Regions from separate parts of the Homo sapiens genome. Here regions 1 and 3 are each linked to region 2. Evidence: fine-mapped expression QTL. A gene starts in region 2. Each other region holds a variant in brackets. All regions are shown on one strand. Distances are between the middles of the regions.

What was found. PIP is the estimated chance that this variant, and not a neighbour inherited with it, causes the effect.
Region 1: its variant is fine-mapped to the expression of VXN in blood mononuclear cells (TOPMed, PIP above 0.99).
Region 3: its variant is fine-mapped to the expression of VXN in whole blood (TOPMed, PIP 0.97).

The regions. Positions count from the first base shown.
Region 1 is chr8:66,466,536-66,476,741 of GRCh38, forward strand. ADHFE1 (alcohol dehydrogenase iron containing 1) reads left to right here. Exons shown (of 14, transcript NM_144650.3): 14 at 1,734-2,372. The coding sequence ends at 1,817. Among named protein-coding and RNA genes, the nearest start is that of VXN, 22 kb to the right of the region's middle. The variant A/G (reference allele first, on the strand shown) is at 4,506.
Region 2 is chr8:66,490,518-66,500,478 of GRCh38, forward strand. It overlaps VXN (vexin), which reads left to right and starts at 3,049. Exons shown (of 6, transcript NM_152765.4): 1 at 3,049-3,201; 2 at 5,920-5,975. The coding sequence starts at 3,132.
Region 3 is chr8:66,389,193-66,398,907 of GRCh38, forward strand. All of the region lies in intron 1 of LOC102724687 (a long non-coding RNA gene), which reads right to left. Among named protein-coding and RNA genes, the nearest start is that of RRS1-DT, 35 kb to the right of the region's middle. The variant G/A (reference allele first, on the strand shown) is at 2,888.

The DNA of each region.
Region 1 (10,206 bases), 24 kb before region 2:
TTCCTTTTACCAGACAAAACAAATACCTACTGTATACCATGCATTGTACGGTATACTAAAAGAAGGAAAATAAAGTCCCTTTTCTCCTTTGTGAAGCTTACCTTCTAGTGAGGGGAGACAGTGAACATCTATAAATAAGATGTAAATGAAATCATTTCAGATAATGATTAGTGTATGAAGGAAAACCTGCATAAGGAGATAGAGAGTGATCTCACGGGGAAAGTGTGGAGAGATCTCCAGCCAGGGTGTTGGGAAGGTGCATGATGATAGGCCAATGCTTTCTAGGCAGAGGGGAAGGGCCCTGAGGCAGGGTCAACGTTAGCATATTCAAGGAACTTAAAAGGGATGGTGGGACTAAGTGAGGTGTTAGAGCTGGGGCAGGAAACAGAGCCAGATCGGGGTAGCCTTAGAGGCCATGGTTTTGTTGTAATTGCCACAGGCATTTATCTGCGAGCATTAAACACAGGAATGGTAGGATTCAGTTTATACTGGAAAAAAATCACTTTGGCTGCTGTGGGGAGAATGACCTCTGGGGGGCAAGAATGGAGCAAAAGTGGAAACAGACCTTTCAGGAAGCTTCTCAAGCTGGACAGGCGAGTGATAGCAGTGTCCTGGATTCCGGTTGTGGTACCACAGGAGGTGAGAAGCGCTCTGACTGGGGCTTCATTTTGGAAGTAGGACTGACACTCCTGCTGATGAGTTGAACTTGCAGAGCAAGGGAAAGGGGAATCAAGTGTGGCTCCTGGGTTTTGCCTGAGCTACTGGGTGTCATTTCTGAGATGAGAAAATGGTAGGAGCGGTGGGGTGGGAGAGTCAGAGTTCTATCTTGTATATGTGAACTTTGAGACTCCAGTATCCCCCTCCCCACCATCTTCACTAATTCAGCAGATAACTGTTGAGCATCTACTTACTATGTAAAGCCCTCTGGTAGGCGCAGGGCAGAGAGCAGTGCACACAGCTGAGCCCCTGGCCTCACAAGTTTCCCTTCCACTAGCTACACTCCCAAACACATGCCAGCAATAGAAAACATGCCCAGAGACCCATGAAAATGGAACCTCAAAATGGACATTCCTCAGTTTCATGCAGGTGCCAGGGGAGTCATCGCTGTACATTTTAGCCCCTGTCCCCGAGAAGCTACTGACCAGAGTATAAATAGAAGTAGGATGTGCTGGATGTCTTCGCTGAATTGACTCAATAATCATTGGAGAAATTAACAAATCACTGGATTTGCTTGGGAACATAGAGATAAAACCTTAGTTAATAGAAAAAAACGGAGTCACTTGTTGCACATAGCATGAACATTAATGTTCTACTGAAGTCCTTTTGAATATGCCTTAAGTCCAAGTTGCAAAATACATGGTCTTAGACTTCGGGGACGACCCAGTTCTCTCTCAGAGCTCTGTGTGTACAGAGAACCTGGCAGAGGTGGTTGACTGACCTAGTTTTGTCATGATAAGGGTGTTTTCCCCAAGATTGGTTTCGGCAGAAGGCTGTTGCCAGGGCGTAAGGCAAGGGGCAGTGGCTTTCGAAAGCTCTGTGGGGAAAGAGGTATGATGTGATAAACCTCTGAGATGGGGATCAACTCATATGAAGTATACAAGAAATACCGTTTTTAAAGATATGGCGTTTATCAAGTCATTGATTCTTATGACCAAGTTAATTTCCATAACTTTGTAGCTTTTACAAACTGCCTTTTCAAAGCCCTGGGTAACTTCTTTCATTTACTGTTTCAGGAAAGGGTCACCAAGCTTGCACCCTGTCCCCAGTCAGAAGAGGATCTGGCTGCTCTGTTTGAAGCTTCAATGAAACTGTATTAATTGTCATTTTAACTGAAAGAATTACCGCTGGCCATTGTAGTGCTGAGAGCAAGAGCTGATCTAGCTAGGGCTTTGTCTTTTCATCTTTGCGCATAACTTACCTGTTACCAGTATAGGTGGGATATACATTTATCTTGCAGGAAATTCCCCAAAGCTCAGAGTCCAGTTCCTTCCATAAAACAGGCTGGACAAATGACCACTATGTTAGACCCCCAGGCTCGACTTCAGGGGTCAGTGTTCCTGTCCCAAACCCCACACAGAATACTCTGCCTCTGTTTCATGTAGCAAATGAGCAAAAACTCAGTATCTATCAAAAGTGTAAATTATATTTCCTATGCCTAGTAATTCACTTCATGTCTAAAAATTTATCTGATAGAAACACTAGCACCAGTACATACAGAAGCATGGCAAGGATGTTTCTGGCAGCACTTTTCTAATAATAAAAGATTTGAAACAACCTTAAGTATTCATTATTGGTATATAGATCACTTATAGTATACTAGACAGTGGAATACTATGGTACTGTTAATAAAGATGAAGTAAATCTCTTGGAAATGAGTCCATAATATACTGGGAAGTTGGCAGAAAGCAAGCTACCAAATAATTATATATTAGTATGATCTGATTTTTACTTTTTCAATTATACATAAACATATATCTACATATACATACAAAAGAAAGATACACATCAAAATTTAAAAGTTATTACTGGAGAAATGGAATTTGGGGTGTGGAGAACTAAGAGAAAATGTTCACTTTATTTATTTATTTATTCATTTATTCATTTATTTTTATTTATTTTTTTGAAATGGAGTCTTGCCCTGTCTCCCAGGCTGGAGTACAGTGGTACGTTCTCGGCTCACTGCAACCTCCACCTCCTGGGTTCAAGTGATTCTCCTGCCTCAGCTTCCTGAGTAGCTATTTATTTATTTTTTGAGACAGGGTCTCACTCCTATTGCCCAGGCTGAAGTGCAGTGGTACAATCATGACTCGCTGCAGCCTCCACTTCCCGGGCTCAGGTGATCCTCCCATCTCAATCTGCTGAGTAGCCGGGACTACAGGCATGCACCACCATGCCTGACTTATTTATTTATTTATTTTTGTATTTTTTGTAGACACGGGGTGTCGCCATGTTGCCCAGGCTGGTCTCAAACTCCTGAGCTCCAGTGATCCTCTCGCCTTGGCCTCCCAAAGTCCTGGGATTACAGGCATGAGCCACCACTCCCAGCCTCATTTTTTATTTTATAAACTTCTGTATTGTTTGGATTTGCTACAACAAGCATATATTACTTTTCTAACATTTATAAAAGAGAAGGGAAAGGAAAGAAAAATGTCATTTTAATGTTTTAGGTCAGATTCGTTTTATTTTATAAAAATACTAGTAACGTATTTAAAAGGTAAAAACAAATCCACAGGGGTAAAATATTAGAGACCAATCCTCTGGTGAATAAGTTGGTTTTTTTGTTTTGTTTTGTTTAAAAAAAAAAAAACAAAAACAAAAACAAAAAGCAAAAACTAACATCCTACATGGTTATTCCCTCTGGAAAAATGTTTCTGGTGCTCTGAATACATTAATTCGAAAAGAAGCAGTTTTGTAGGTTACAGATTACAGCATGCAAGTAGAATCCAACTAGTGTGATACTCTTCCTCCCTTTTATTCCCAGGCTACAGAAACCTGGACAGCTCATTTTTCCTTTCAAAAGTTAACCCACTGAGGTTTTCTTGCCCAAGCTTTGGCAGTATAGATCTCAGAGTACTTGCAGATTTACTCACATTTTAAATTGAATTAAATTTTTAATCTTATAAATGAGTAATATAATTACTTCAGGATTTTTTTCAAACAGATGAGAAAAGCATTACTGTGCCATTCAACTTGCCTAGGCCACTTGATCTCCATAAAGGTCTTTATTTTGTTGAGATTTTAAAATAATGTTTATTGGGGGTTTTCTCTAACTACAGACATAAAATATATTCGGTACCAAAAACTGTTAATACAAAGATAAACACAAAAGAAAATCATTGTTCATACTGCACCATCCAAAAGATAGCTATGTAAAAATTTTGTATATGTTATTCCAGTAATTTTGTATGCATAAATATATGTTGTATAACTAGCTATATATGTGTACATTTTTTACTTAGAAATGGTATTATTAAGGTGTAATTTTAATTTCTACAGAACATTCAAATTTTTTTATACCAAGTGCCCCAAACATAGGCTTAAGATGGTGCCAGTAGAATTTCAGCTACACCTTGCAGATCATAGCTAGCTAAAATTTCTTCTAGCTCTTCAGGAGAATCCTGGAGATGAGGGCAGAAGCTGGGCATGAATGAGGCAGAGAACAGCTAAACTCTGCCAATCTGAGATCCTTCAGGAAACTTCAGTAAAAGTTGTTAATGAGAGTCTCAAAATATATTTAGCATGGCAAAAACTTATATGTATACACATACACATATATTTTTCCCTCACCACCCCCACCTCAGAAGCAGTCTAGGTAAGTTTGAGAACACTTATAATATATTAGGCAATGTGATATGACATTATTAGAAGAGCATTAGGCTAGGGTTCAAGGGCCCTGGATTTTGTTTCAGTTTTGTCTGAGTCTTAGTTCATTCAACTAAGGCCTCTTCCAGCTTGAAAATGCTATGAGGCCGGGCACAGTGGAGGCTGAGGCAGGAGGATTGCTT[A/G]AGTCCAGGAGTTTTGAGACCAGCCTGGGCAACATGGCATGGTGAAACACCATATCTACAAAAAATACAAAAATTAGCTGGGCGTAGTGGTGCATACCTGTAGTCCTAGCTACTCAGGAGGCTGAGGCATGAGAATCACTTGAACCTGGAGGGTGGAGGTTGCAGTGAGCTGAGACCACATCACTGCACTCTATCCTAGGCAACAGAGCAAAACTCTGTCTCAAAAAAAAAAAAAAAGAAAAGAAAAGAAAAGAAAGAAAGAAAATGCTATGACTAGGTTTTATGTATTACCTGGTCCTTAATGTGAGATTTTCGAATTGGGAAAATTCGATGTAAAATAATTTGAGATACAAATATGCATTCTCCCCCCATCTCTCTCAAATGTTCAGTGCCTTTGCTAACAGTAGCCAGACGTCTGAATGTGACTCACCAAGAGGAGTGTTTGGTATTCATATTGATGATGACTCTGTAGAGGAAGAATTTAAAGGTCAAGCATGAAGAAACAGATTTAGGAAGACTTGGTGTTTTTATCTGGATACCCATCATTCTGGCCCTTACAATTAGAGATTATGGAAAAGGTGAGTTTTGTGACTTACTAGCTATTAAAAGAGGATAAGCTAGATTAGGCCCATTTCTGTAAATCAAACATTTCATGTTTCAGAGACAATAATTAAGTGTATTTTTTCTGATTCTGTATCCTATTTTTCTATAGATGTCCTTTAAGAAAAATTCTTAAGAGTCGCAGCTCCATTTATGTGGATTAAAATACCTACCAAGGCAAGGACATTTAATAGAGTGGTATTCAAGAGTTTGGAAAATACTATGTTCATAAAACTATCATCATACGGTGGCATTTTCACTTAAAATACATGCATATCCCTAATTTATTTTTTGATACAGAATACTGATTTGTTCCAAATAGGTCATGTTTCTATTTATTGTTGAGTGCCACAATAAATAGCTGGCTCGTTTTGCACTCCTGTCCCTCTCTATGGCATTGTTCGAGTAGCTGTGGACACAGCTGTGGGGTGTTTTCAAGTGGTCAGTGAAGTAAGTCTGCTCTTGTAAAATACAGACAAGTACAGTATCAAAATAGCGCGAACGCGCAAAAATTGCTTTCCTGGCCTTTTAACCCTGAGAAAGATTAATGGTTGTTTGGATTAGAAACTGTACCCTAATGAGGGGGCTGTTGCCTCTGGGGAGTAGGTATGAGAAAGGGGACTGTTCACCTCCAGGTCATCGTTGCACAGGCTGCGAGTCTCTGACGACCCGCAACACCACTCCAGACAGCTGCCCGGGCTCTGCCAGTAAGTGCCTGGTCCTCCGGGAGCTGTTGAGGGGACCAGGCCATCACCATCACAATGGCCTGGGGGAGGCAGTCTCCAGGACCAAGCGCACTTTGAATGGACAGAAATTGGTTCTTAAAGCCCTAGGTTGAATTACTGGCAGCTGGGGGTGGGAGGGTCTAGTTTCTCGTGCTATTATTCTACTGTTTTTCCAACCACTCCAATCACTCTCAGAATAAATGCAATCGCCTAACAAATTGCAATAACTGTTTTGAGATTTCGTCCCCTCTGAAATGCCTCATGAAGCTATGCGCACAACAGCTAACTTCAAAGTAACCCCACTTCATTCTTTCTGGCTTTAAGTTTTTGTCTTTTTCAGTTGGGTGCTTTAAATTGATTTTCCAATTTATAAAATTGGAAACTGATTAAAATAATCATGAGAGAAAAGGAAGAAAAAAACAACTAATCATCCTATTACCCAAACACAGCTGTTAACATTTGACATATTTCCTTTCCATCTTTTCCATTTGGGTGGTGTAATCTCTTAACACATGACATTTTAAGGATTTTCTATGTTGTTGCATAATCTTCATAATCATATGCAAATGTATGCAATAGTTTATTAAATAAGAATTTAATAATTTATTCTTATTATAGGTCATCAAATTGCTTCCAAATTTTTATTCCTACCAATAACTTAGCAATGAATAGATGAATAATGTTTATATGGCATCTTTCACATTCTAAATTAATTTGGTAGGTTAGGTTCCCCTAAAGTCAATTTTAACATTACAATATAGATTTTTTTTCCTTTTTCTTTTTTTAAGAGATAAGGTCTCATTCTGTCACCCACAATGAAGTGCAGTACAAGATCATAGCTCACTGTAACCTCAAACTCATGGGCTCAAAAGATTCTCCTGTGCCTCAGCCTCCCCAGCAGCTGGGAGTATATGCAAGCACCATCACACCTGACTAATTTTTAAAATTTTTTTGTAGAGATGGGGTCTCGCTATGTTGCCCAAGCTGATCTCAAACTCCTGGCCTCAAATGATCCTCCCACCTTGGCCTCCCAAAGTGCTGGAATTACAGGCATGAGTCACCACACCTGGCCTGATGTAGACATTTTTATGACTCTTGGTTCACAGTGTCAAGTTACATATAACTCAGAATTGCCTTAAATATTGCTTCCCCTCTCATTCAATCTTCTCTTCAAAATAAATACTAGTGCAAAGCAACAAGAAATGAAACAAAGTTCATTTGCAAGTATGGACCAGACTAGACTATTTGTGCCAACCTGCAAGTCAATAGTGGTTTTTTTTTTAATGTCAGTACAGCTTAATGGTTCACAGGGATTACAATTTTCAGATAAACTTAGGAAAATTTGGTGTTATATCCTTGCCTCTTCGGTGAAACTTTAAGACCCCAAATCTCTTTTTTACTTACTTTTTTTTTCTTCTAGAGCCCTCTGTGGCCCCCTAAGCCTGTAGGTCTGTGTTTTTCAGTTTTGCTGGCCGAGAAAAAAGACCCAAGGGAGTAACATATTATTTTCTACAAGGATGTTCTAAAACTGCTCAGGCCTGTGAGTGAAATGATTTGCTGCACTGCAAGGGAGGTGAGTGAGACCAAGGAACTACACCCACCAAGATCCCTTCCAAGGGTCTAAGTTGCTTCTCTAATCAGAAACCTCTCAAACCTTTGCGACTGTGCACATAGGTCCCATGATGGCTTTGGCAACATTTACCTGGGACCAGGGTGAACTTCGTACCATGTATTGCATATGAGAAAAGAAAAGAATGTTTGTCAAACAAACCACTATGTTTTATTTTATTTTATTTTATTTTAGTGTTGCTGGTAGGTGTGTAGTGAGTTCTCAGTGTGTGTGTGTGTGTGTGTGTGTGTGCAGTTTTTTTTTTTTTTTTTTGGACAGGGTTTCACTCTGTCTCCCAGGCTGGAGTGCAATGACACGATCTTGGCTCACCACAACCTCTGCCTCCCGGGTTCAAGTGATTCTCCTGCCTCAGCCTCCCCAGTAGCTGAAATTACAGGCGTGTTGCCTCTACGCCCAGTTAATTTTTGCATTTTTAGTAGAGACAGAGTTTCACCATGTTGGCCAGGCTGGTCACAAACTCCTGGCCTCAAGGGATCCCCCCGCCTCAGCCCCTGAAAGTGCTGGGATTACAGGCAGGAGCCACTGCGCTCGGCTTCATTGTGGTTTTAATTTGTATTTCTCTAATGGCATGTGATGCTGAACATCTTTTCACATGCTGATTTGCTATCTGTATCTCCTTTTTGTTGAAATGTCTGTTCATGTCTTTTGCCTATCTTCTAATTGGATTGTTTTGTTTTGTTTTTTTACTGTCGAATTTTGATGATGCTTTATATATTCTAAATACAAGTTTTTTCTTAGATATGTGGTTTGTGAATCTTTTCTCTCAGTCTGTGGCTTGTCTTTTTATTCTCTTACAGGGTCTTTCACAGACGAAAGGTTCTTAATTTGATGAAGTTCAGTTTATCACCTTTTCCTTTTTATTCATCATGCATTTGATGTCAAGTCAAAGAACTCTGCCTACCCATAAATCTCTAAGGTTTTCTCCCGAGTGTTTTCCTAAAAATTTTAGTTTCACATGTAAGTCTGTGATCTACTTTGAGTTAATTTTTGTATAAGGTGTGAGACTTAGGGGGGTGTGTGTGTATGCATGCACACATGAGCACACCTAGGCTATCTCTAGTATCATGTGTTCATTTGTTGAAAAGATACTCTTTCCTCCATTAAATTGTTTTTATGCCTTTGTCAAAAATCAGTTGGGCATATTTGTGTGGGTCTGCTTCTAGGTTCCCTGTTTCATTTCAGTGTTCCATGTGTCTGTCTCCACCAATACCACCCTGTTTTGATTACTACAGCTAAATAGTAATCCTTAACATTGGTAGAGTGATTCCTCTCCTTTACCCTTCTTTTCCTTTTTTTCTTTTCTATTTTTTTTTTTCTTTTTTGAGACGGAGTTTCACTGTTGTTGCCCGGGCTGGAGTGCAATGGCATGATCTTGGCTCATTGCAACCTCCACCTCCTGAGTTCAAGTGATTCTCCTGCCTCAGCCTCCCAGGTAGCCTGGCCTATCCTTCTTTTTCAAAACTGTTGTAGCTATTCTAGTCCTGCACATTTCAATATAAATTTTAGGATAACCTTATCTATGTTGACAAAATATTCTTGCTGAGATTTTATAGTAACTGCATTAATCCTATTGATAATTTGGTGACAGCTGACATTTTTAGTATGTTGATTCTTCCAATCCAGAAATCCAGTATATCTCTGCATTTATTTAGGTCTTCTTTGATTTAGTTAATCAACATTTAAAAATTTTCAGGACACAGATCCTCTACACGTTCTGTTACATTTCTATCTAAGTATTTCATTTTCTTTGGAGCAATTGTAAATGGTATTGTGCTTTGAATTTTGGTTTTCACATGTTCATTGTTAGTATACAGAAATGTGATTGATTTTTATATGTTGATCTTGTATCCTGCAAACTTGTTGCACTACTTATTAATCCTAGAAGTTTCATTGTGGATTTCTTATGATTTTCTATAATTATCCACCTGTGAATAGGGACAGTTTTATTTCTTCGTATCCAATAAATATGCCTTTTATTTCCTTTCCTGGTATTTTTGCCCTGGCATACTATTCTACTACTATGTTGAATAAGAGTGGTGAGAGCAGATATCCTTGTCCTGTCCCCTATCCTAGGGGGAAAATATTCAGACTTTCACACTGAGTATGATGTTAGCTATAGGTCTTTTATAGATTCTCTTTATCAAGTTAAGGAATTTGTGTCATCTTTTAAAGGTGTTATAGTAGCATGGTAGCTTTTCTTACTCTGTGAATTTATGCTTAGATAATTTACTGGATTTAGGTTATTTTTGTAATCAAGAAACAGAGCAATCTTTTCCATTTTCATTATAATTCTGTTAGGTACCCGTGCAGGTATTTCTGTTTGACAGATAAACTTTTTAAAAACAGAGACTGCAAGAGGTAAAATGTCTTGCCCAAATTTATATACAAAGGACCATTGTCAGACTAGGTCCTAGGGCATCAGTTCAATTACATTTATTGTAAACCTAATACTCATAATATGATTGAACCCCTATGTGCCAGGCACTATAGCTGCTTTACATGTTTGTGTTATTTAATGCTCAAAACATAGCTATGCTGTTACCATAGAGATTTGCTCAGTCCCTGTTATGGACTGCATGTTTGTGTCCTCCCAAAATTCATAAGTTGAAGCCCTAACCCCTAATGTTTTACAAATGATTATACCAAACCTTAGAGAGGCTGTATAACTTGACTATGGTCACACTACTAGCAAGTGGTAGCAAGTGATTTGGACCTAGACAAAGATCTTGCTCTTGACAACCACCTA
Region 2 (9,961 bases):
ACAAGGCAGTAGTTTGGGTTAGATGTCCACTGTGGTCCAGACAAAGGTGGCAAGAGGACAAGTTCAAGGAGAATAAACATGGCTTCCCAGAGCCATCCTCTGTGACTGGGTGCAATTCTCAAAGAAAGAGGTATATAATATTGACGACTACCTGATGAGTAAATGCCTCAATTTGTTTACTATAGAGATATCAATGGATGCCAACTCCAGGTCTAAGACATATGGATCAGGTCCACTCAAGTTCAAAGTAATGGAAGGCTTTGCAGTGGGAAAGTTGTCAGAATCAAAATTGGGTCACTTATGTCAGCCTTAACAAAATAGAGCCAGGAGGTCATGGAGGTAGGGGGAGGCTCTCAGGCATGATTTGCCTGATAAAAGGAACTATCACAGGAAATGTTATCAAACCATAGTTTGCTACATGAGTCACACAAAGACAGCTAGCGGCTTGTACAAGAACACTTGCCTGACACACTGTCTCCACTAAAGAACTGACAACAACTCCTGTCATAAACCCTTGTAACCAATGTTCTGTTTGTTTCAAAACAATCTATATGTACTCTTTTGCCTTTAAAACTTCCCCTTACCTTAGCCTCCCTGGATGTGCCTAAGATTTGTCATAGCATCTGTGTCCTGCAATTCCCAATTAAACTACATATTTTTAGAGAGCTTCTCTCTGTTATTTGGGTTGACAGGAGATAAAGAATAGAGTAAAATTTACTGGTTAAGTACTTTTTCTTTTTGAGATGGGGTCTGTCTCTGTCGCCCAGGCTGGAGTGCTGTGGGGCAATCTTGGCTCTTTGCAACCTCTGCCTCCTGAGCTCAAGCAATCCTCCCACCCCAGCCTCCCGAGTAGCTGGGACCACAGGCACACACCACCACGCCCGGCTAATTTTTTGTATTTTTGGTAGAGATGGGGTTTCGTCACGTGGCCCAGGCTGCTCTCAAACTCCTGAGCTCAAGTGATCCTCCTGCCTTGGCCTCTCAAAATATTGGGATTATAGGCGTGAGCCACTGAGGCTGGCCCGGTTAAGTACATTTGACTTTGGAGTCAAACTAGGGATTAAATCCTAATTCTACCACAAACTAGATATTTTAATCTCACAAGAGTTACTCAGTGGCTTTATGCCTCAGTTTTCTCACCTATAAGATGGCAAATATAATAGCTAGTCTTATTGGGTATTCGTAGATATTAAATGAAATTATATATCAGACTACCTAACTTATAGCAAGCATTTAATAAGTGGCAACTCTCATTATTATTATTTCATCACCATCAGTATTAGTATGAAGAAATGAAGCTGTAACAGTGTAATAAAATGCAGTGGGTTTGGCATGATACATATGTTTCAACCATAACCTTATTTGTGTGTATATACATAGAGAATATATAAAATACAGGGCATACATAGGATATCATATGCATATGATATCGTATATCTAGCTGCCCTGAGATTTTGTTTTCACCTGTGTCTGTAGCAATGGCTTGCTGTCACTTCCATTGGTGTACTGGACTGTTGGTACTGAATTAAATGAGACAGGGAGTATTTAGCTGCTCTCGCCTTCCCTCTGATGGATTGTTTCTCAGTGATTGATGTTTATCCTTGTGCCTCTTTCCCCCCTCCAAAAAAATCAAATACCATCAAAACCAAGAGTCCATCAGACCCCAGAGACCTGAGGATAAACCGTAGTAAGGCAGCACGTGACTGTCCTTCCCCTCCTGCCTAAGACGCCACGTTAAGGAAACAGTCAAGGACAATTTCACTCACCCTTGGAAGGAATCACGGTGGTGAAAACTTCTATGTTCTCGTCACTGCAGCTGTAAATCTGATGCATCATTTCAGCCTCCTCTTCCCAAAGTGCCTGGGAACTGGAGGCCTCTGTCTCTGGACCCCTAGTCTCGAGGCATCCTAATCCAGTCCGGCTCAGGGATCATTGTACATGTATCACATATACGATATCATATATACAGATGATATATATGATATCATATAAACACATGATATATATGATATATATACACATGATATATATGATATATACACATGATATATATGATATTATATACACATGATATATATGATATATGGAACAGTATATAACCTGTGACCTCTATATGTAGCATAATAGGATTTATAAGATAATAAATATATAGGATAAATGTATTAGGATATATAGGGTAATACAAATATATATAGGGTAATACAAATATATACATATGCTATATATACATATATCATATATACAAATATATATGATATATATACATACACAAATATATATGATATATATATATACACATACATATATACATATGATATACATACATATATAATAAATATGATATACGGGACAGTATATAATCTGTAACCTGTATATGTAGCATAATAGGGTTTATATAATATATTAGGATATATAGGGTAATACAAATATAACTTTCTATAATTTGCTCCTTGAACATGGGGCACTGCCTGTTGCCATGTCTCTGTGAGCACCTAAGGGTTATACGCGGAGGTACCAAACACAGGACCCTTGAGAAATGTCAGCCTTGTCATGTAATGGCATGAGGGGAAAACACTGGAGAAACAGTCCTTTTGTTTAAAATAGAAACTTCTAAGAGAGCCAAGTTAGCACATGACAAATTACTGAATATCCCGTTCTCCTGGAGGGGAGAAAAAAAAAAAAGCCCCTTCATTTCTGAAATGAGAAAGGGAATTGCTGGTACCAAAATTCACGTTTCCTTTTTGGTGGAAATTCTCCAGCCAAGCTTGGCGCTAACAGAGTAGGCGATTTCACTTCGTCGTCACCTCACAAAAGGCTTCCAAATTCACTGCGGCAGACACCGCAAAATAAAAATGTTAAATACATCCTAGCTGGGAGGGGATTGAAGCCTCCAGGCTCAATCAAAGGTTTGCAATAATAGGATTCATTTAAAAAAAAAAAAAAAAAAAAGGACAGATGGGTTTAGAAAATGTTGCAGTGAAGACTGGAACGAGATGAGCTCATAGCACCAGCCTGTCTTTTGTGGACCCGCACAATGATCCCTGAGCCAGACTGGATTAGGATGCCTCGCGACTAGGGGTCCAGAGACAGAGGCCTCCAGTTCCCAGGCACTTCGGGAAGAGGAGGCTGAAATGATGCATCAGATTTACAGCTGCAGTGACGAGAACATAGAAGTTTTCACCACCGTGATTCCTTCCAAGGGTGAGTGAAATTGCCCTTGACTGTTTCCTTAACGTGGCATCTTAGGCAGGAGGGGAAGGACAGTCACGTGCTGCCTTACTACGGTTTATCCTCAGGTCTCTGGGGTCTGATGGACTCTCGGTTTTGATGGTATTTGATTTTTTGGAGGGGGGAAAGAGGCACAAGGATAAACATCAATCACTGAGAAACAATCCATCAAGGGGAAGGCGAGAGCAGCTAAATACTCCCTGTCTCATTTAATTCAGTACCAACAGTCCAGTACACCAATGGAAGTGACAGCAAGCCATTGCTATGCACACAGGTGAAAACAAAATCCCAGGGTAGCTAGATAGAGACTTTCATTTTTTCCAGTGAGCAAGTGGGTTCTGAAATGAGAACAGCTGGCTTAAAAGTATGATTTCTAACTGTGCCATGCAAAGTGCGGAGAAATACTCCCGGTGGCTGCTTGAAGTCCAGTGAAGCCGTCAGAGAGCGCCCTGACCCTGGGCTGGCTTCTCCACAGAACCCAGGGCCACCTTGCAAACTTAACCCGGAACTAATGCTGCCAGAGAATGCGACACGAGAGTCTTGACTTTATAAGCTCTTGTGGTCCTCAGTGAACGGTGTTAAGGGCTTTGTGTGAGGGTTCTGATGACTCCAAGTGTCTGGTTCCTGGTCAGTCCCCTCAGCCTCTCCTAAGCATGGCCCCCTCTCCTGCCGCCTCTGTTCTCTGCCTGCGCTCCTGTCTTGCCCCCTCCCATCCACCTCCATGACTCAGGCTTAGCCCCTGGTCTCATTGTCAGCCTTGAATGAAGTAGGCTGGGTGTTTGCTGGTGTTGTGAGCCCACATTCAAACAATTCCTTTCTTCCCCTGTGTCAGCCGCTGACAGGGCCATTGCACAGTGGGGCAGGGAGAGATTCCGTTTGGCCACAAAGAGACAGCCTGCAGGACATAAATTAAGCTTTAGACATTTACTGCCAGATCCAGAGAGAGGGAAAAGAGCTGGGAGTCTGCTGCCCACGTGCAGGAGTTGGAATTCCCTCTGGAAACTCTGAAAGTCCAAGTTGACCCTCGGAATCAGCAGTTTCGCTTTTGGGTGGAACTCCTCTTACCCCTGGATGTTCACGGTGGCATTGATTCTAAGAAGGCACAACTGAAAATAACCTGAGTGTCCATGAAGAGGGGAATGGTTAAAATGTGGTGCTGTCATGCTGTGGAATACTATACAATGTCAACAGGAATAAACTAGATGTATGCCTGTGAACATAGGTAGATCTAAGCATAATGCTGAGTGCCAAATAAGCAGGCTGAAAAATTATATATGTAAGATAGCATTTCTGTAAATTTGAAAATATAAACCAATACTATATATTGTTTATGGATATGTATCTAGAGAAAAATACAAAAACATAGACCAGAAAGATACAGATAAAATTAGTGATCTCAGTAGTCTTGGGAAGGTAGGGAAGGAGAATTAGGGAAGGGTAGAAAGAGAACCAAAACATTGCCTCTGATTTTGTATTTCTTGTATATGAGAAGAAAACAAAGTAGAAGGAAATATGAAAATGTTACATGTGTTTATTTTCTATCATTTACTTCCATTTACAAAATTTTTAAAGGAAGAAAAAGTCAAAACGAAGTGGTTAAGAGACTGCTGCCACTTCTGCACTGTGTGACCTTGGGCAAGCTACTTAACCTCTCTGGGCCTGAGTTTCCACTGCTGTAAATGGGAGAAACAACTTATCTTCCAGGATCATATGGGGAATAAATGAGTAAATATATAAAGCATCTAGAACAGTAGCTGGCATGTAGTAAGCACCATTAAATACATCACTTAAAAAGTGATTTCCAATTTTATTTTGTATTTAGAATAATCAACATGATCAGTCAAAGATAAATATTTAATCTTATCTTTTTTCCCTTCCCATTTTCATTCATGGCCACTTCCTTGTGGTACAAGAGTAGCTATCTTGTGAAGTTGCTGTAAAACCTTTTCCCAACCAAGTAACATGTTTAATGGTTAATTTCTTTAAGCTTTTTTATAATTGTGGCAAAATATGCATAACAAAATGTACCATTTTAAAAACTATTTTTAAGTGTACAGGTCAGTGGCATTAAGTCTATTCACATTGTTGTGCAACCATCACCCCCATCCATCCTAGCACTTCTTCATTATCCCAAACTAAAACTCTGAATCCGTTGAACACTAACTCATTCCCCCACTCTTCCAGCCACCAGTAACCACCATTCTACTTTTTGTCCTACAAATTTGGTTTTTTGTCCTTTTGTTTGTTTGTTTTTCTGTCTCTATGAATTTGACTACTCTAGGAACCCCATATTAAGAGGAATTGTAGACTATGTGACATTTTGTGTCCGGCTTATTTCACTTAGTACCATGTTTTCAAGGTTCATCCATGTGTGGCATGTATCAGAATTCCATTCCTTTTCAAGGCTGAGTAATATTCCATCACATACAGACACCATATTTTGTTTATTCATTCATCTGTTGGTGGACATTTGGGTTGTTCCCAAACTTCAGCTCTTGTGAGTAATGCAGCTATGAACTTTGTACTCAAGCCAAGTAACATCTTCAATCGCAACGACCCTGTCTCTTTTTCCCGTCCCCTCCTCTATGCCCCTGCCTCGCCACAGATTCAAACCTTCTCAGTGTTGTTACTGTAGCTATGTCAGCCTCGCTGATGTTGTCTAAAACCATTTCTTTCTCTCTGTCTTTGCAGTATCCAGTCCAGCCAGAAGAAGAGCCAAAAGCTCTCAGCACCTCTTGACCAAGAATGTAAGGAAACTTTAGTTTTGATGTTCTTTGGTTGACTTTCATTTAAAAAGCAATGCCAGGCTTCTTCTTCACTCTCGCTCCCCAGCTCTCAGTGGCCAGGAGGGTTTCAGTGTTCCATGTGGTGCGTGCTGCACTCTCCGTTCTCCACTTAACCAAAATAATTGACAAATGTCAACCAGACACCAAGTGACCCTGAACTGGACCACTTATTCTGCCATTTTCTCCAGGCACAGAGAGTAAGACTTGTTTTATGCACACTTTTTTTTTCTTGTTTAAACAGAGTTCACGATGTGGACATAGCATTCCTGATCTAGGTGTTTTCCTATTGTTGGCATTCGTAATGTTCCATTTTTTTACTATTATTAATAGCACAGCAATGAATGTATTTATATAAAATACTATTTTTTTTTTGAGATGGAGTCTCTCTCTGTCGCCAGGCTGGAGTGCAATGGCACAATCTCTGCTCACTGCAACCTCCGCCTCCAGGGTTCAAGGGATTCCCCTGCCTCAGCCTCCCAAGTAGCTGGGACTACAGGCGCACGCCAGCACGCCTGGCTAATTTTTTGTATTTTAGTAGAGACGGGGTTTCACCATGTTGGCCAGGATGGTCTCGATCTCCTGACCTCATGATCCATCTGCCTTGGCCTTCCAAAGTGCTGGGATTACAGGCATGAGCCACTGCACCTGGCCAAAATACTATTCTTTTGGATTAATTCCTCAGAGCATAGGCCTCAAAGTAGAAAAAAAAGGTAAAAGGATAAGAACAATTTCATCCATCCATCTACTCCTTCATCAAATATTTGCATTCCTACTGTGTGTGACAAACATTGTGCTAGATGTAGAGAATTGTGATTTGCTCAAACTAGTTCTTTTTACAGTTTTGTCACATACTGTCAGGAATTCTGAACAATTTGGGGGCTTCCAGTAATGCTTGTCCATTTACCACCAACATCACCAGCATCGGCTTTCCTCTTTTTGTATTATGTTTTGCTGCTTTAACATGCATATGCATTACTCTAAAATTAGCTTACATGTCTTTAGAGCCTAATAATGCTGTGCAATTCCCATTTTATATATAAATTTCTTTACATAAAACTGGCAGTACATCTTTGCGCTTTAAAGTTGAAACTGAGTTGTCTCCTCTTGGTTGTACTGGAGTTTCTATTTCTATGACAATTTTTCATAGGATAGCATTTCAATTTTTGAAGTATCTCAATTTTCAAAAGCCTATTCTCCATTAAAAATTTTTTTCGACTGGGCACTGTGGCTTACACCTATAATCCCAGCACTTTGGGAGGTTGAAGCAGAAGGTTAGCTAGAGCCCAAGAATTCGAGGCCAGCCTGGGCAACATGAGACCCCGACTCTACAAAAAAGTCAAAAAATTAGCCAGGCGGCCAGGCGCAGTGGCTCACGCCTGTAATCCTAGCACTTTGGGAGGCTGAGGTGGGCGGATCACCCGAGGTCAGGAGTTCAAGATCAGCCTGGCCAACATGGAGAAACCCCATCTCTACTAAAAATACAAAAATTAGTTGGGCATGGTGGCGCATGCCTGTAATCCCAGCTACTCAGGAGGCTGAGGCAGGAGAATCGCTTGAACCTGAGAGGCAGAGGTTGCAGTGAGCCAAGATTATGCCACTGCATTCCAGCCTGGGCAACAGAACAAGACTCCGTCTCAAAAAAAAAAAAAAAAATTAGCCAGGCATGGTGCTATGCTCTTGTTGTCCTAGCTACTTGGGAGGCTGAAGTGGAAGGATCATGTGAGCCAGGGAGTTCGAGGCTAGAGTGAGCCATGGTCATGCTACTGTACTCCAGCCTGGGCAAACAGTGAGACCCTGCCTCAAATAAAAAAAATAATAATAATGTCCTTTGAATGAGATGGAGTTTTACTAGTTGTTGTTTCTATATAACATGTACATATACTATACATGTAAATGTATACATGTATATAAATGTATTACCTTTTTATTTCCAAAAGCAGTATATGCTATATAAAATTTTATACAATACAGTAGTCCCCCCCTTATCTGCAGGAAATATGTTCCAAAACCTCCAGCGGATGCCTGAAACCATGGATAGTACTGAACCCTGTATCACTATATCCTTTAAATCTTTTGTGTGTGTGTGTGTGTCCTTTAAATCTAATAACCAAGATGGCTACTAAGCGACTAACAGGTGGGGGTTGTCCACAGAATGGAGACCCTGGACAAAGGGATGATTCATGCCCCGGGAGGGGATATGCAGATTGGTGTGAGATTTCATCACACTGCTCAGAATAGTGCAAAATTTAAAATCTATGAAATATTTCTGGAATTTTCCATTTAATATTTACAGACTCTACTTGACCAAGGGTAACTGAAACCATAGATGAAAGGGACTACTGTATACTATCAGCAAATCCTGAGAAGCTGCAGAAGAGAGGGGTTAGGTATGTAGACTTCAGAGTCAAATGGCCTGGGTTTAAATCCCAGTTCTATCCATTTCTAGCTATGTGACCTTGAGCAAGTTGCTTAGCTATTGTGGAATTCAACTTCCTTAGCATTAAATGAGGATAATAAGAGAACATTTCTCAAGAACCATGGGAAGGAGCAATGATTTTTTTTCTTCTGCAACAAAAGCCACATTTATTTTTTTATTTTTTTCTCTTTTTTTTTTGGCAAATGATTTAATGCATATAAAATGTTTAGTCCAGAGCCTGACACATATAAGCATTCAATAAGTATTGGGTTGGTTTTTTTTTTTTTTTTTTTTTTGGCGGAGGGGACAGGGTCTCACTCTGTCACCCAGACTGGAGTGCAGTGGCGTGGTCTCGGCTCACCACAGTCTCAACCCCCTGGGCTCAAGTGATCCTCCCTTCTTAGCCTCCCAAGTATCTGGGACTACAGGCATGAGCCACCATGCCCAGCTAATTTTTGTACTTTTAGTAGAGACAGGGTTTCACTATGTCACCCAGGCTAGTCTCAAACTCTTGGACTCAAGTGATCCACCTGCCTCTGCCTCCTCCCAAAGTGCTGGAATTTGCAGGTGTGAGCCACTGTGCCCAGCCAGTTTTGTTTTTTTGTTTTTTGTTTGTTTGTTTGTTTGAGACACAGTCTCACTCTGTCGCCCAGGCTGGAGTGCAGTGGCACCATGTCGGCTCACTGCAACCTCCGTCTCCTGGGTTCAAGCAATTCTTCTGCCTCAGCCTCCCGAGTAGCTGGGATTACAGGAACTCACCACCACGCCCAGCTATTTTTTTTAATATTTTTAGTAGAGACGGAGTTTCACCATGTTGGCCAGGCTGGTCTCGAACTCCTGCAATTTGCTTTTTTCTCTTAATAAATCTTGAATATCTTTCTATGCCAATTCATCTGTATAGCTCTACCTTATTCTTCTTTTATATACACATTTTTAAATCTTTATTTATTATTAATATTATTTTTCATAGGGTTTTGTCATGTTGCCCAGGCTGGTTTTGAACTCTTGGGCTCAAGCAAACCTACTGTCTCAGCCTCCCAAAGTGCTGAGATTACAGGCCTGAGCCACTGTGCCTGGCCTACCTCATTCTTTATAGCGGCTGTATAATACAACATTGTATGAATGCTCTATAATTTTTTTTACCCAAACCAAACCTGAAGTTTTCTAGATTCATTATTTAACCAAATTATCGATAAATAGGGTTCCCCATTTTTTCTATTAAACAATGCCACAACAAATTCTTGAACATATTTTTATGTTCTTAAATGATTCCGAGGATAAATTCATAGATATGAAAATCCCAGGCCAAAGGAGATACACATTGAAACAATTTTATAGCCACTGACAAATTCCTAGCAATTACATTTTAAAATACCTTTTCCAGAACAGCTGAGCCTATACTGTGTGGCATCAATGTTGTTAGTCTTTGACAATCAGATAGGTAAACATATCCTGTTTAATTTTATTTCTATAATTATTGATGTGATTCTTCATCTTTTCATAGATGTATTGATCATTTCAACATTTTTTC
Region 3 (9,715 bases), 100 kb before region 2:
AATAGTAAGTGCTTAGGCTAGGGTGATGGCAATGAAGATGAAAATAAGAGGGTGGATTTTATTTAGGTGGCATCTTCGTCCATTTGTGCTGTGATAACAAAATACCTGAGTCTGGGTGGTTCATAAAAAACAGAAATTTCTCAATTTCTGGAAGCTGAGAGTCCAAGATCTAGGCGCCAGCAGATTCAGTGTATGGCAATGGCCTGGTCTCCACTTCCAAGTTGGTGCCTTGTTGCTGTATCCTCCACAGGGGAGGAATGTTGTGTCCTCACAGGGTGGAAGGGATGGAAGGGCAAGAGAGAGGCAAACTCCTTCTGTCAAGTCCTTTCATAAGGGCATCTAATTCTGTTCATGTGGGCAGAGCCCTCATGATTCAATCATCTCCTTAAAGCCACACCTCTTAACAGTCTTCCATTGGGAATTAAGTTTCCACATGAATTTGGGGTGGGGACAACCAACCATCATTCAAACCATAGCAGGTGGTAAAATCAGCAGGACTTAGCAATGGAGGGTATGGGGAGGGATTTGTCAATAATGCCTCCACGCTGGGCGCGGTGGCTCATGCCTGTAATCCCAGCACTTTGGGAGGCCGGGATGTGAATACCGGGCCTTAAATGTCTTAAATGCGGGAGAGAGTACTTGGCCCTAGATTTGCCTGCCTTCATCTTTCTTCTGACTCCAACCTCAGTTGGAGGCAGGCAGATCACGAGGTCAGGAGATCAAGACTATCCTGGCTAACACGGTGAAACCACCTCTCTACTAAAATTACAAAAAATTAGCCAGGCGTGGTAGCGGGCACCTGTAGTCCCAGCTACTCCGGAGGCTGAGGCAGGAGAATGGCGTGAACCCAGGAGGCGGAGCTTGCAGTGAGCCAAGATCGCGCCACTGCACTCCATCCAGCCTGGGTGACAGCGAGACACCGTCTCAAAAAAAAAAAAAAAAAAAAAAATGCCTCCAAAGTTGATGGCCCAAGTAACTGGCAGGTTGCTCATGCCATTGGTGTGAATAGAAAACACTGGGAAAGAACCAGTTTAGGAGAGTTTTAGGAGAAAGATTGCAGGTTCAATTTTAGACAAATTGAGCTAGAGGTGCTTCTAAAATGTTCAAATGGTCATGTCAAGGCAATAAATGGGTCTGGAGTTTAGAGAAGGAATCTGAGCTGGAGTTAATTTAACAGTCATCGGCATATGGAAGAAAACTGAGGCCACTGGTATGGAGCAAGTATGGAGTTAGGAAAGAAGAGGCCCTGGAGCCAAGCTCTCAGGAGCTCCATCAATTAACCACTGAGTATAGAAGCACGAGCTTTAAAGGGAACTGAGAAGGGAAAGGCCACATAAGTGAGAGGAAAACCAAAATGTAGTGTTACAGAAGCTAAGGGGAAAAGTATTTTTTTTGGACGGAGAAAAAAAAAGTTTTTTTTTTGGAGAGTTCAACAATGAATTAAGTGACTGGAGGTCACTGATAATCTTAACTTTTTCAGAGGAGTAATGAAGTCAAAAGCAAGATTAGAATGAAGTTTTTAAAATTTTTAAAATTAACCCAAATTTGCATATAGCATTTTACCCTAAAAGAATCTCAGATAAAGGGGAGTCACAGAAATAACATTCGAATGAATCATGTCTCAAAAAGAAAGATTGCATTCTGAGCAGGATTCTGATAAAGACTCAAACTACTTCACTTTAAAAAAAAAAAAAAAAAAAAGCTCCAGTGCATTTATACATCTCAGGATCTCAGGGGCAGCACCCCTGGGTGGAGACTTCAGTTGAATATAGGGTAAGCCTTCATGATTCACAAGCCCAACAAATCTTAGAGCTTTATTATACTATGTTCTTAGATTCTGTGCTAGGAAACCACAGAATTCAGGACACTACCTTCCTGCAAGGACCTGGGGTACTTAGTCACCATCACAGACATTTGTAGAGCACAATCTATGTCCAAGAGACCATGCTTGGTGCCACAGCTCAAAGAAAATGTCTGTAGATTGGTTCGAACCTAAGGAGGGACTCACCGGAGCCTTTCCTGGGTATGACAGCATGCTTACTCTCTCCCAGTTCACAATCTAGGCCAAATGGGAGATGACTACGGTTATTGAAAGTATTAGATCTTGGTTCAAACAGCTCCTTGAATAGGATAAAATGATCCTGGTGATAATGCCACCTTCCTCTCCCAAGTCTTTTTTGGCAACTGTGCTTATTACTCATTCATTCATTAATTCATCACTTTCTAGTCATTCAACTACATATCAGGCTCTGGGACTGGTGCTGGAAATTCAGTGGTGAGCAAGATGGGCATGGTCTTAACTCTTGTGGAACTTACCAGATAGAAGACATCCCCCTGTTCAGGATGTATTGGCCCACACAGAGCTAAGAGATCAGTAGCCATGATTGATCTATCAGCCTTTCGGAGACGGCTGTGTCATGCATGAGGGCCCATCTGTAGCCACTGTGCAAACTGTTTGGAGAAGTGAGAGAGCCTCTAAGGAGCCAAGGAGAGGTTGGGGTGGGGTTGGGAGTTGAAGTGTATCAACCCACTGATAAAGAAGGGAGATCATACCAGCAGCACTTTATTTTTAGAACTATACATGCTGCAATTTGGAAGGGATCTCTGGTGCCATCTAATCTCCTCCTACTTCCTCAACACAGGACTCCCCTCTACTGCAGCCCCTGCATTCATTCAGCCTGTTTTACAAGGCAGCAGCTTCGTTGCTGAACAGTGGTGTTATAATGGTCCCCATTCCACCCCTCTGCTTGGTCCTGGGATTACAGGTGTGCACTACAACGTCTGGCTAATTTTTGTATTTTTAGTAGAGACGGGGTTTCACCACGTTGGCCAGGCTGGTCTCAAACTCCTGACCTCAAGTGATCCACCTGCCTCTCTCTTCCAAAGT[G/A]CTGGGATTACAGGCATGAGCTGTCTGGCCCAAGTTATTACTTTAATACCACAATGAATCATAGATAATGTTACAGCAAAATACACCTGACGCACTCATTAAAACAAAGATCACATTTGCATAGTTGCTGTCCATAGAAAGATACACACAGAGGCAGCTGGAAAGCTAATGAGGTTGTCCAGATGGCAGCATCTTCCTCATGTGGTACATGTGTTCCAGGAGCTTTCATGGGACTCCACAGCCTCCGCCTGCCTCCTTCCCCTCCCTTCTCCTAGAAGGATAGTCTAGACTAGCATTGTTAACCGGAAGATTGTACAGGAGGATAGAAGCAGCATTCTGATGAATACTGAAGCTCATTGTGAGAGAAGGTGCCATTACTGGAAAAGAGGAGTATTTAAGATGGGTATTACTAATAGGAGTTAGGCCAAGGGGAGCCCTCAGGCAGGGCATCATCTGATGTGATGGCTGGCTTCATGTATTTGAAAAAGGGAGCGATTTATTTAGTGCTGCTCCTGAGGGCAGTATGGAGCCTGCTGAACCAGGGCCCATCACAGTGGACCAGCCTGGAGTGTTCAGGGCCTGCAGCCTGGGTTTCTCCCCTTTCTTGCTCCATATTCTTAGAAAAGTTACTTACTCTTTGTTGATCTTGGTTTTCTTTTTTTAAAAAATATTTTTACTTTCTTTTTCTGTGAATTTGAGACAGCATAGATCTTGGTTTTCTTATCTGTAACATGGAGATAAAGAATAATGCCTACTTCATGGGGTATTGTAAGAATTTTTTTAAATTTTTTTTTTGTTTGGGGGGCTACAGGATCTTACTCTGCCACCCAGGCTGGAGTGCAGCCTCAACCTCCTGGGCTCAAGTGATCCTCCCACCTCAGCCTCCCAAGTAGCTGGGACTACAGGCAGGCAACACCACGCCAGGCTAATTTTGGATTTTTTGTAGAATCAAGGTCTCGCCATGTTGACCAAGCTGGTCTTGAACTCCTGAGCTCAAGCGATCCGCCTGCCTCAGCCTCCTAAAATGCTGGGATTACAGGCGTGAGCCACCACGCCCGGCCATATTGTAAGAATTTAATGAGGTGCTACTTATAAAGCATTTGGCATAGTACCTTGGCAAATAAGTTGTTTATATTATTAGAGGCCAGAACTACCAAAGGTGTCTGCTTTTTGTTCACTGTCTTAGATGCGGGAGAGAATATTTGACCTTAGATTTGTCCGCCTGCATCTTTCTCCTGACGCCAACCTCAGTTCCTCCTCTGACTGCCTCTCTCCATCTGTATTGCAAAACACCAAACTCTCTGCCAAAGAACACATGTAAGTGACCAAAACAGCAAGAATTGCTGATCTTTACTCTCACAGGCACTGACAGTTGCCTGGCAGGATCAAGGGAGAGCTTATTAAGAGGGAGGGTTTTTTGTCATTACATATGGTTGGATAGGGAGAAAGTATGGCCCACTGGAGGGAGAGCTCCAGTCATTCTCCAGAACACAGAGTGGGAGTCAACACATTCTGAGTCAGTCACCAATACAACTTTTGGCCAAAACCCATTTTCCTGTCTTTGATTTCACCATATGACCCCTGCTGATTGCTCTGACCCTTCCCACCACAATGCGCACTTACACCTATTTCACCCAAATCACATAAGGCTGGTAACAAAGAAGTAACACCATGGGCCACCACTTGGCCAGGTTACCTTCCTCCTCCTGACTCTAAAAAAAGGTACAATGGAGAATGCACAAATTTGACAACAACAAAATCAATGGAATAGCTACATTCTTATGACAAATTATGCCAAGTCTGAAGGCTTCTGAGCATTTCCTGTTGTCATAAAGGCAAAAACACATTTCATTATTTAGAAAATCTGAGCATCAACAAGATAACAAGTCTGACCTTTGTATCCAAGCCCTTTATAACTTTGGGGCCAGAACCGGTAGAATGGGGAAGAGTCCACTCTGTTCTCTTTAAGTTCTTCTGGAGAATTTCTGCTCAATTCACTCTTCTTAAAATGTCAAACTCCTTATATCTATATATACAATCCTTTGCCTTATGAATTAAGGTCCTCTGACTCCTGTACCTTCAGTGGACCAATGACAGTTTCAGGATTTGAGCAGCTAAGCTTGAGTGTGAATTCAGTCTATGCTCTCCTGGGGTTTCCAATCTGTGCTGTACTTAGGTTTTGTTTTTTCTTTTTTCTTTTTTTCCCCACTGTCTCACTTTCCCAATGTACTTAGGTTTATTAAATGAGTTTACGTATCTCAAATACAGGATAGTTTTTGAAACTGAAATATCTTAAATTTATAAGAAAAACTTGGCCTTCAGATTCACAAATAATCCAAAAACTTATAAATAATTAAAACCTCAACCTTCTCCTTCATGAAAAATTTAGTCAGAATTCTTAATAAAATAAAGTGATTTAAACTCTAGCTCATATAACATAGGATTAAATATTTCTAAATCAGATTGCTCAAAAGATACAAAAAGCCTCAATAATTCATGGACAGTCAGGAATGAGGTTGAGCTGAATGAGCAGAAAAATGATGTATAAGATTAGACACAGCTTGGTCTTCCCAAGCAGGTGGCACAGCAACACTTCACCTCTCACAGCAGCAAAAGCAATTCACCATCATATGCTACTATCTTTTTTATTTAAGAATAGCATTTAACAAGCTTATTTTAGAATCTGATTCATTTTCATTTTTAGGAAATTTAAAGGCCTTAAACCTTCTCCATACTGTGTGTGATTACACCTAATTAAAGTTCACATCTTTCGCAGAAAGGTGGGATATCAGTTCTAATTTTACGCACTGGTGTGATGGAGGGCAGAAGGCATTAGGCTGCAGGCCAATAAACCCAGGTTTATTCCTGACTTGGTCACTACTTTTCTGGATTTTCTTAAATGCCTCAGTTTTTCCATTCATAATATATGAGCATTAATGTCTGGCCCTTATCAGAATTCTCTATGGCAAATTATGTAATCACCTTTCATTTTAAAACTATTTAAACTATTGAGCCCGTACTGTATGATAGACACCATCCTATCTGCTATAAATAAAGTAAGGAACAAGAAAGTCATACTCTAACATTTGTTACATTTGTTCAAAAAATTTGTACTGCTATCCAATAATTGATATGACACTTTCAGGAACCTCTGAAGATACATGAAGTCAATAAGTCAACCAACAAGTCAACAAACATTTGTTGAATATTTACAATGTGCAAGACATTGTATCAGATACAATTATAAATAAAAATGTACCTCACTAGACGTATGCTGCTAGAGGATACAGCTCACGTTCATCATTACACCCTGTATCCCCGAAGTCTAGCATAGTGCCTCGTACTCAGCAATGCTCAATAAAGAATTGTTGAATGGACAAATGTATGACTGTGGGAGTGAAAAAAACAATCAAGGGCCCTGCACTCAAGGGGTTAGAATTTAATAGGGAATTTAAAGCATGTGTGCATCCACTCATCAACTACAATAAATAATAGTATGCCATAAAAAGACGCAAAGGAAACAAAAGAATTTAAAGCGGAAACTCTAACAGATACTTGTACACCAGTGTTCATAGCAGCTTTATTCACAATAGCCAAAAGTTGGAAACAATTCAAATATCCATTGATAGATGAATGGATCAACAAAATGTGGTGTATACATAACAATAAATTTAATTCAGCCAGAAGGAAATTCTGACACGTTACAACATAGATGAACCTTGTGGACATTATGCCAAGTTAATTAAGCTAGGCCCAAAAGGACAAATATTGTATTATTCCACTTACATGAGATCCCTAGAATAGTCACATTTATAGAGACATAAAGTAGAAGAATCATTACCAGGGGCTATGAGGGAGGGGGAATATGGAGTTATTGTTTCATGAGTAAAGGATTTCTGTTTCAGATGATGAAAACGTTCTGGAAATGGATGGTGGTGGTGGCTATGCAATGAGAACATACGTAATGCCACTAAACTGTACATTTTAAAAACAATTAAAATAGTAAATTTTATGTTATGGATTTCAGTACAATTTTTTTAAGCCATGAAGAAGCTTGGGAGGCACTGAGAACATCTGCCTGGGATAATCAAGGAGGGGTTTTCTAGAGATGGTCCTATTTGTGCTTGCTCTTCCTGTTAATCCCTGCAAATCAAAGTTCATACTGTGGATAATAAGAAGCAAGCATTCATTTTCATGTGGTTCACCAGCTTTATATGATTCCTTATACAAGAAACTAGTAAGACAGGTTGCTCTGGGAAGAGGCACTAGAAGCCTAGAGGTTTAGGGATTTGATGGCCTGGGGTAGAAAAAGACTTACTTTTCACTGTGCATTTATTCCTTTTTGTTTAAAATACAAATATTTGCATTTCCCTGATCATTAGTGATGTTGAGCATTTTTTCATATGTTTGTTGGCCATTTGTATGCCCTCCTTTGAGAATTGTCTATTCATGTCCTTAAGCCCACTTTTTGATGGGATTGTTTGTTTTTTCTTGCTAATTTGTTTGAGTTTGTTGTAGATTCTGGATATTAGTCCTTTGTCAGATATACAGATTGTGAAGACTTTCTCCCACTCTGTGGGTTGTCTGTCTACTCTGCAGACTGTTCCTTTTGCAGTGCAAAAGCTCTTTAGTTTAATTAAGTCCCAGCTATTTGTTTTTGTTTTTATTAAATTTGCTTTTGGGTTCTTGATCATGAAATCCTTGCCTAAGCCGATGTCTAGAAGGGCTTTTCCAATGTTGTCTTCTAGAATTTTTATAGTTTCAGGTCTTAGATTTAAGTCATCGATCCATCTTGAGTTGATTTTTATATAAGGTGAGAGATAAGGATCCAGTTTCATTCTCCTACATGTGGCTTGTCAATTATCCCAGCACCATTTGTTGAATAGGGTGTCGTTTCCCCACTTTATGTTTTTGTTTGCTTTGTTGAAGATCAGCTGGCTGTAAGAATGGCCAAAATAAAAAAAAAATCGATGTTGGCATGGATGTGGTGAACAGGGAACACTTTTACACTGCTGCTGGAATGTAAACTAGTACAACCATTATGGAAAACAGTGTGGAGATTCCTTAAAGAACTAAAAGTAAAACTACCATTTGATCCAGCAGTCCCACTACTGGGTATCTACCCAGAGGAAATGAAGTCATTATATGAAAAAGATATTTGCACACACATGTTTGTAGCAGCACAATTTGCAATTGCAAAAACGTGGAACTAACCCAAATACCCATCAATCAATGAGTGGCTAAAGAAACTGTGGAATACTACTCAGTAGTAACTGTGGAATACTACTCAAATGGAATACTACTCAGCCATAAAAAAGAATGAATTAATGGCATTCACAGCAACCTGGATGAGATTAGAGACTATTATTTTAAGTGAAGTAACTTAAGAATGGAAAACCAAACAGCATATGTTCTCACTCACATGTGGGAGCTAAGCTATGAAGATGCAAAGGCATAAGAAAAACATGTGGATTTGGGGGACTCAGAGGGTGAGGGATAAAAGACCACAAATTGGGTGCAGTGCATACTGCTTGGGTGATGGGTGCATCAAAATCTCACAAATCACCACCAAAGAACTTACTCATGTAACAAACACTACCTTTTCCCCAATAACCTATGGAAATAAAAATAATAATACATTTTTTAAAAAATACAAATATTTTTTAAAAACTTAAATGACTCCTGATCCTCTTTTAAAAGATTCTTGGCTGGGTGCTGTGGCTCATGCCTATAATCCCAGCACTTTGGGAGGTCAAGGTGGGCGGATCACCTGAGGTCAGGAATTCAAGACCAGCCTGGCCAACATGGTGAAATCTCATCTCTACTAAAAATACGAAAATTAGCTGGGCATGGTGGTGGGAGACTGTTATCCCAGCTACTTGGGAGGCTGAGACAGGAGAATCGCTTGAACCCAGGAGGCAGAGGTTGCAGTGAGCCAAGATCATGCCATTGCACTCCAGCCAGGGTGATGAGAATGAAACTCCGTCTCAAAAAAAAAAAAAAGATTCTCAAAATTTGGTCTGAAAGATACAACAAAATTGTCTTAGTTTCATAAAGCCAATGTTCCATATCAGAAGCTTTCATCAGATAACTACCAAAGCATTCTTTCATTTTTAACTCTAACTGTCCCTTCTGGGAGTCATCAATTTTGTAACTATGAAATCTCCCTCCCTGCTAATCACCACTCAACACCCATATACTTGTTTCCCATCAGTCAGAGGACCAGATTTGGGTATTTCTATTTTAGATAATACATGATTGATGTTCTTATACTGAGGCTTGAAACAAAAAAGATACTGAAAAACAGCCACACTAGGGATGAAATTATAAATATACATATTAAACAGTCGGTTAAATATAAAAAACTAATGAGAGAGGAAATGGGGAGATGTAGGTCACAGGATACAAAGTAGCAAGTAAGATGAACAAGCCAAAAGATCCAGTGTATAAGATGACGACTGTAGTTAATAGTAGTGTATTGTATTCAGGAGTTTTGCTAAATGAGTAGATGATAGCTGCTCTTGCCACAGGGGGAAAAATGCATAAGTATATCAGATAATGAATATGTTAATTTATTCTACCATATATATGTGTATATATATACATATGTGTACACATTTGTATACATATATCTAAAATATACACAGTAAAATTTATTTTTATAGAAAGAGCTAATGATAAATTATGCAGATAGTAAAATTTTAACCATCAATCCTTCCTCCCTGGTATGATTAATTCAGGGTCTTGGTTCAGCTCTTTTACACTGTGTTTCAATCTCGGGTCCTCTTCTAAATGAACTGTAATTTATTCATACATTCCTAAGGCAGA